Homo sapiens: one gene and its partner. The protein of the gene in region 2 interacts with the protein of the main gene of each other region in a pairwise test. Each region holds a gene or a part of one and is shown on either strand. Other genes may lie near its edges.

Evidence for each region.
Region 1: the proteins of INSIG2 (region 2) and SLC18A1 interact in a two-hybrid assay, tested with the Homo sapiens proteins (one large-scale study listed by BioGRID).

The regions. Positions count from the first base shown.
Region 1 is NC_000008.11:20,180,044-20,184,589, forward strand, and holds the start of SLC18A1 (chromaffin granule amine transporter), read right to left. Parts: upstream 3,094-4,546; 5' UTR 3,020-3,093; intron 1,910-3,019; exon of another isoform or gene 1,706-1,909; intron 1,045-1,705; 5' UTR 922-1,044; coding exon 798-921; intron 1-797.
Region 2 is NC_000002.12:118,101,669-118,105,487, reverse strand, and holds part of INSIG2 (insulin-induced gene 2 protein), read right to left. Parts: intron 2,292-3,819; coding exon 2,167-2,291; intron 1-2,166. UniProt on the Homo sapiens protein: Oxysterol-binding protein that mediates feedback control of cholesterol synthesis by controlling both endoplasmic reticulum to Golgi transport of SCAP and degradation of HMGCR.

The DNA of each region.
Region 1 (4,546 bases), on a different chromosome or scaffold from region 2:
ACTTCTTTTTCTCTTTTATAAAGAAAACACGATGTACCACGATGTTTAAGATTTAAGATTATAATTGTGTGTGTGTGTGTGTGTGTGTGTGTGTGTGTGTTTCCCTGGGAGCAATGATTCAGTATTCACTAATTCAGTGTTTGCAGCGACTTTATAGAGCATAACTATAACTACAGAACTATGAATAATGAGAAGTGATTGTATTGGATTAACAACTTGTCTCAGAAAGATCCTTTTTTAAAAACATATGTTTTACCCAAGAGGAGAAACCTTTTAGTGCCCATTTATACAAGGGTGTAACTTAATGTAATGATTAGGAGAGTATCAACTAAAAAAAGCAGGATTCTGAGGGAAAGAACCACAAGGAAGGCAAGGTCTTGATACTAAATCAGATATCCAAATAAAATATGCTGTTTTTATAGAGCAGAGTCCAGAAAGGCACCCCTGTGAGAAGATCTCGCTGCCTCAGAGGCACTTGGAGTCATTAGCACCTTGAGAAGACAGTGTGGGGAGAAAGAAAAGCACAGCCAGTTCTGGCTCCGGGCCATCCTCTTCTCCAGTCAGACCCTCTCTGGACCTCCTGCTCTTTGAACCTCCTGAGTCTTTTAGCTGTGTTTGACAAGTGTCAGACTCCATTTTCTGCAGGGCTTTTTTCCAGTCCCCAACAACCTCTGTGTGTTTTTGAGCATAAAAAGGAAAATTCTCAGATGGATTCACTGTTGAACTCAAGCAGGGTGTACACTGCCTGCTGGGGCCCACAGCAAATTAACCCTCAGCACAAAGACCCACAAACGTACCCACCACAGTAAACAGCATGTTGTCCAGGAGCAAAGCGACGAATACCACCACCAGCACCAGCTGCCGGGACGCTCTCCCCTCCTTCAGCAACCGCTGGGGAGCATCCAGAATGGTCCGGAGCATGGTGATGGCCGGACTGGGGCAGTCTTCCCCTGCGGGCTCTTAGGGAAGGTCCTGTGACAGCTACAGGTCTCCTGCAGCCTTTATGGAAGAGGGGAGGGAGTCTGCCCAGACGAAGGAAACTCACTATTAAAACGAAAAGTGCAAAGGGTTGCAAGTAGTAGGATGATATTTGGAAACATCTCCATGTCTGTATCACTGTTCACTTCTTATAAATCTCAATAACTCTACCTGGTTCCCAGAATGCCTTCCTGGTAAGCATCGCTTACTAGCTATTTATGTCTGGATTTATATCTAGCCATTAATTTCCCTTGAATTTAATGGCTAGGTATAAATCCAGATAAAAATAGATGCTCTACAGATCACTTAACCCTGTGTTTTTCAAACATCCGACATTTATTTGCCTATCACCTTGATGGTTTATGTCATATCTAAGGACTACCTGTACTATCATTTACTTCATCTTTTTCCTCTAGATCCACTCTTTTAAAATATTGAGATACTGCCAGGTATGGTGGGATGTGCCTGGAGTCTCAGTTACTTGGGAGGCTGAGGTGGGAGGATATCTTGAGCCCAGGAGTTTGAGTCCAGCCTGGACTACATAGCAAGACCCCTAACTCTCAAAAAATTTTTAAAACCAACATAGATATTGATATCATGTTTCAAAAAGTTATTTTATGTGGCATGCAAAAAAAGTATGACCTTTGTTCTAGGTGCTACCCCAAAATATTTCATGTGGCACAGTGTCACTTGGGCTGCCCACTGAGAAACACTGATGTAGACCAACCTTCATCTCATAGACAAGAAATCCGAGCCTCTGAAGGTTAGGAGATTTGTTTGGGGTTGCACAGTTAGTGTCAAACTGGGATGAAATCCCACGCTTTTCAACTTGCCAGCTTATCCTCTACCATGTTCCCTTGCTCTGTGGTTCTAGAAGCACGCTCATTCTTTTGTTTGAGCTACAAACCCCTGATCAGAAAGATGCCTTCATCTGTGAAAATAAAATATTGACTTTCATGATTAGTTCTCTATTCAGGATTTCATATCATTAGTCAGCATTAAGTCACAGTACCTTGTCAAACTTCAAGTAATAAGAGTTTCTGGGGAGAATTTCATTTTCTTTGACGTGGCTTCTGTTGTGGTATCAACAATATCACTCATTTAAATTTTAAAATAGATTACCATCATGAAATCTATCAGGCCCTAAAAATTGTATACTCTTTGACTTAGTAACTCTACTACAAGGAACCCATCCTACAAAAGAAAAAAGGTCAGAGATGCAGCCAAAGACTTATACTCAAAATGATCAATTGCAGAATTATTTTTCTTAGTGAAAAAAGTCAAACATGTTAATGGTGGATTATTAAGCGGCTCTTAAAAATTATATTTTCAAATAATTTTAATGATACAGAAAATACTATTACTATAACGTTAAGTAAAAAAGGGAAATTAAACTGTGTTTTCAACTTTATCTCAATTGTCTAAATATAAATATATGGGCACATTTTTGAGAGAGTAGAGAGATACTCAAATGCCAGTTATTTATAATCAATGACTTCAGTTATCTTCTGTGTATTTCTAAATATTCAATAATGAGCTACTTTTGTAATTAAAGAAGTAAATAATTTTAAATGATTATCACTGAAATTCAATAGTCAGCCTCAGGTGTTGGGAGTACCCCAAACACTGAGGTACTCTGTTCTAAGCCCAGGGCTGGAAGAACCCTCTCACTACTACATATTAACGTGACCAAGGTCCTAAGTGAACCAAATTCTCAGTTAAGTTTTAACCAGTAAATGCATGCAATTACTTAAGATCCTTCATTTCTCTATATAAAGGAGGTATTTCTGAATACAAATTGACTTAGGATATGTATGGATAAGAATAAAAGACAAGCCATGGAAAATTAAAAAACATAGTGAGTGAAGTAAGTACTACAAAGAGAGAGAAACACACACACCCAAATCCCAAAACAAAAACAAACAAAACCAGGAATTTGCCAACAAATCAATAGTAAACTTTACTTAACAGTCAAAATCCTCTGACAGAGACACAAATCACAAGGAAAGATTAAATTTGTCCGGAGAGAGAAAAATCTTACCTTGGAGCCCATGTTGGTGTGAGGCACTCAGTGAGGTATTGGCAGCTGTTAGCAAGACAGCAGGGACACTGTTCTCTGAACGTGGATGTGCTGTTGGATTTATTGCCTCCTGTTATCTGAGGATTCTGTGTATGTGTGTGTGTGTGTGCCTTTGTCCACAAAGATTTAATTGCAACCTCCAACAGGGTTCATTCAGACCCTTAGCTCCCTGCGTCAAAGGCAGGAAGGCAGGGCTGGAGAGGATAAAGAGAGGGCAGATATTAGCCTAAGCAAAGAGGCACTGGACTGTACTGTTTTGCATCTGTGCTTATCTATCATCGAACTCTTTAACTCTTGCCTGGGTCTGAATACAAATTGGAAGCCAAGATGGAACCAGTGTGCAGTTCCTGTTCCTTGCTACTTAGTCAAAGTGGCTCCATGTACCCCAATTAGCTTCCTGGAAAGAAACAATGTATGTTGTTCTCAAGCCATAAAAACCCAACATCTGTGGCCTCTGTAAAGGCTTAGATTATGCACTGTGTCTTCACATCTCAATACTGGCTCAGTGCCTGATACATGGTAGCATCCAATAAATATTTCTTGCATGGATGACTGGATGGTTAACTACAGGAGAAAGTGCAGTTCCTTGTGGGATCTTGAGAGGCTCTAATGATCTATATTATTCTGACATTAAACCATTGGTGGCTCAAAGAACATAAGCAATTTATGAAAAAGCAAATACACTTTACGAGCAAGAGCAGTGCAGAGATTTCCTATTTGTGGAACTGGTGGGCCCCTCCTAATTGTGGGAATTAACTAGGGAACTTTCGATTTAACGCTAAAAAAAAAGAAAATAGTTTTTTAATTTTATTTTTTTTATTTTTGAGACAGAGTCTCGCTATGTCACCCAGGCTAGAGTGCAGTGGCATGATCTTGGCTCACTGCAACCTCCACCACCTGGGTTCAAGCAATCCTCTAATCTCAACCTCCTGAGTAGCTGGGATTACAGGTGCATGCCACCATGCTCAGCTAATTTTTGTATTTTCAGTAGAGACAGGGTTTCACCATGTTGGCCAGGCTGGTCTCGAAGTCCTGACCTCAAGTGATCCTCCTGCCTTGGCCTCTCAAAGTGCTGGAATTACAGACGCGAGCCACAGCGCGCGGCCTAGATGGAAACAGTTTTAAAATGTAAACCTAGAGCGAGAAATAGGGATAGGAAACAAAGACATCAGCAGAATGTATTCATCGCTATAGTTTGCTGCTGTAACAAATTACTACAATCTGGTGGCTTAAAACAACACGTATTTAGTATCTTGCAGTTCTGGAGGTCAGAAGTCCAAAATACATCACACCGGGTTAAAATGAATGTGTCGGCAGGGCTGCATTCCTTCTGGAGATTCTGGGGGATGGTTGTTTCCTTGCCTTTTCCAGCTTCCAGAGATCTCCTGCATTTCTTGGCTCCTAGCCACTTTTACCCTCAAAGCTAGCAGCAATGCATATTCAACTCTCCCTCTGACTCTGAGCCTTCTGCCTCCCTCTTTCACTTGT
Region 2 (3,819 bases):
TCCCTATGAAATAAACACTCATGTAAAGAGTGGAATTTGGTATTAAATGAGTTTCATGTTTGCTAACTAAACTTAATTAAAAGTCACAGCGAAGTAAGGAGGCTTCCAGCGTAAATAGATATATCAATCTTAAAATAGTGCCATATGGGCCAGGTGCGGTGGCTCATGCCTGTAATCCCAGCACTTTGAGAGACCGAGGTGGGCGAATCACAAGGTCAGGAGATTGAGACCATCCTGGCTAACATGGTGAAACCCCATCTCTACTAAAAATACAGAAAAATTCACCGGGTGTGGTGGCAGGTGCCTGTAGTCCCAGCTACTCAGGAGGCTGAGGCAGGAGAATGGCGTGAACCCGGGAGGCGAAGCTTGCAGTGAGCCAAGATTGTGCCACTGCATTCCAGCCTGGGTGACAGAGCAAGACTCCGTCTCAAAAAATAAAAAAATAGTGCCAAATGATTTTGTAAAGTCTAAGTAACCTAATATTAGAAGTGTATGCTATAAATTTGGTAAACATGTTGGACTTTACTTGAAGGACAACAGGATATCTAAGATTGCTATATTTAAGTATTTCATTGAGAAAGAGAGTGAACAAAGCAAAGAATTTGAACTTATTAAGTTTTTAGAATTTCAGAAAAGGCTATTTAAATTTCTCTACTTAAAAACAAAAATCAAAGTGGAAGTGTCTAAGAGAGAAAGATCTAATCCACCGGACAGAGAGGAACTGACACAGTTTTGAGGTTCCTGGGTAGGAAAATGAGATGTTTCTAGACTTTAGTCAGGCTGTCTCAGGGCTGTTCTCAGCTCTGCTGCAATGTCGCAGTATAAATGACTTAGTAAATTACCTAACCTCTTTAGCTTCTGTTTATTATCTTTACAAAGAAAATGTGGAACTAGGTGATTTCTAAGTTCTCTTCTAGATATAATAGTATATGATTTTAACTTTTTAAGCCCTCCTGACCACTAGATTTTTTATAAAATCTTAAATCTCAAAAAGTTCACCAAAATAAACATGTGGAAATGTCCTCAATACAAACAGAAATTAAAACTAATAATAGCCACTGAGGGACTTCCAAATTCACAGACCTGCAACAGCCAGCACAACTGTGCAGAGGAAGGCAGATGTGTTTTCAGAATCTAGGACCCTGCTCTTTTCTATGGTTTCTGTCCCCAAGCTTATCCAAAACACCTCAATACTTTTTGGGAAAGACACAGGGGTCTACTTGACACATGACCCACCCTCTCTCTCCAGCTAGCTAACTCTGCCTGCCCCAAGTCCAGTGCAGAGTTATAAGAGCAAACTTTTGGCAGCCTGAGTCACACTTCTTGCTTTTCCAAGTACCCAAGGCTCCTGCCACCTTCATTGTCTAAACCACATCTCCTAGAAAAAGACAGGAATAGCATTTCCTAGTTCCTCTTCTACCAAGGAAAGTCAGAGCAAATGAGGAGGAAGTACAAGAGAGGAAATAAAGAGGATGATAGGAGGAAAACCTTATGAGGGCAAACATTTTTTTCTGGGCAGAGAAGGTAGAAAGGGGAAGGGGAATAGGGGCTACCTGAGACACTGTAAAAATACTCATTAACCACTAAATAAAATGTCTGAATCTTCAAACAATAAAACTTTGAAAATATGTACTAGGGTAGAAACTTATTTTTTGGCCAAGGTCTAAGTTGGTATTTCTACTTATGCCGTTTATGTGGTTTGTCGGTATTGATTAAAACCAATGCATCTACCTTTAAAAAAAAAAAGCTTCTTTAAGTTAAGAAAAACAAAAGACAAAATAGCACCTGAAGCTACCACATGTACTTATTAGCAATTCTTAACAAAGAAAGAGAGGAAAAAACTCCTCTGAAAATGTACCTGTTCCATTTTTGGATTAACTACACAAAAGTAATTAAGTAACCAAATTTAAGAAAAACAAGTAAAGTTTTCAAATTTGCAAAGTTTCTAAGTGATAGTGAAAAATACACAATGAAATGAAAGGCTATACCCCACTTTATAATTGCACAGCTGCTACACCGATGTTTCAACAATATGGTTGACATTCTTCTTCTGACTAAGTGGGCATATCATAATTTGACAACAGTGAAGTTGTAAGGGGCTGTTTAACCTTTGGTTTGTTGGAAGCCACTTTGTTATTATGCATTTCATTACAGAGTAAAGGATACAGCACTGGCATGATTTATACCAACAAAGACTGCTACACACCGCATTACACTGGACCACTCTCTTTTAAATTTATGTGGTTCTCCTAGATGTCTGTCAATGCAGGGGTATAATAACCCAATCACAGCTGTAGGGAAAAAAGAAAAAAATTAAGTTACCTCCAATGTTGTACTGGCAACACTTAAGCTAAAAGAATCACTACAACCACCACAAGCATTTTAAAGATTCTTAAAAAAAAAAAAACAAAAAAAAAAGTTATTTCACATCAATCACCGATATTTTTTAACTTACCTTCCAAAGGAAATGAAATGAGGATAACACCAATGAAGAAAGTATTGCAAATGATTACAACAACATTCTAAATTATAATCAACAAAATACTCTTCAAATGTATGATTCACAATTTAGCAGACTGGACTAAATGATTCGTGCTACTAAATGATTCATGCTACTTTTCTACTACTGATACCTACGAGACCTGAAAAAAGTATCAAACCAGTTAGCAGTTAAGTAATGTTCTCTCTAAACTCCAAACCATAAAATATTTATTATATGCCACAAATCTAAGAGAATCTAGAAGTATAAAAGTATACAACAAGCTCATCATACACACAATGTTCTGAAGGTTCTGGCTGGCCTCTTACGTAGATCAGTCTCGCCCCTACCAGCTTCCCGTTTTAGTCTTCAGCATGTAGCACCTTTTACTGACACTCCTTTCCACTCTAGCCCTTTAATGAGGCTGTAGGTCATATTGTCAAAGCAGGAAAACTCACAACAGAAATCTACAGGTAAGACTCATTCTGCACATAGAAACAATGGAGGAAACAAGGTGTAGAGGTATTTAAAATTTTCAGTTAAATTTTAAGTGCACTGTTAGAAGAAGAAATCATCTTAGTACTTCTCTTAGTTTTGGAAAGAACACTTTGAATGTTGTGTCATTAATTATACATAACTGTATATAAAATGTCAATGATTGAGTCCCAAAATATTCTCATCCCTTTCTTATTTCTCAAACCTCAACATTTTATTCATTTAGTGGGAAGGAATTTTAAGTGCTAAATTAGTTATTAAAAAGACTATTTAATGAAAATATTCTAATCTTCCTAAAAACAGGATGATTATGTTGTGCCATTCTGGCAATAAAGACACTACTGTCACATCAGTTGAAAAGCATGTTTAAAATAACCAATACCACTTAAGAGGAATCATGAAATTACAACGCCAAAATCTAAGTGCCTGAGGGACAAGAGGCCCTCCCCCTACCCAGTATTAGCCAGCTGTATCTCACAGGCAATGCATTCACTCTTCGAAGAAAAACAGAAACCAATTAGTATCAAAAATCACAGCCTAGCAGACCAATGGTGCAGCATTTGAAAAAGGCTGTGTGACCACCCTTCTATCTCGAGATGAGATGCTGCAATACTGTATGCATTTTCTAGTCCACAACTCTTTTGAGTTAGGCATGTGCTGAGTATAGATGGCTCACAGAACATCAAGAGATTAAGAACATATCTCGGCAATGCAGAGCTCCAATAACTATTAGTAAATCTAGAAGTTTCACACTATATTCCTATTTAAAAATCTGCTCCAAAATCCTGACAAGATTAACTGACAGGATTTTAAAATTTCTATACAAATAAAATGGCAACAAGCAT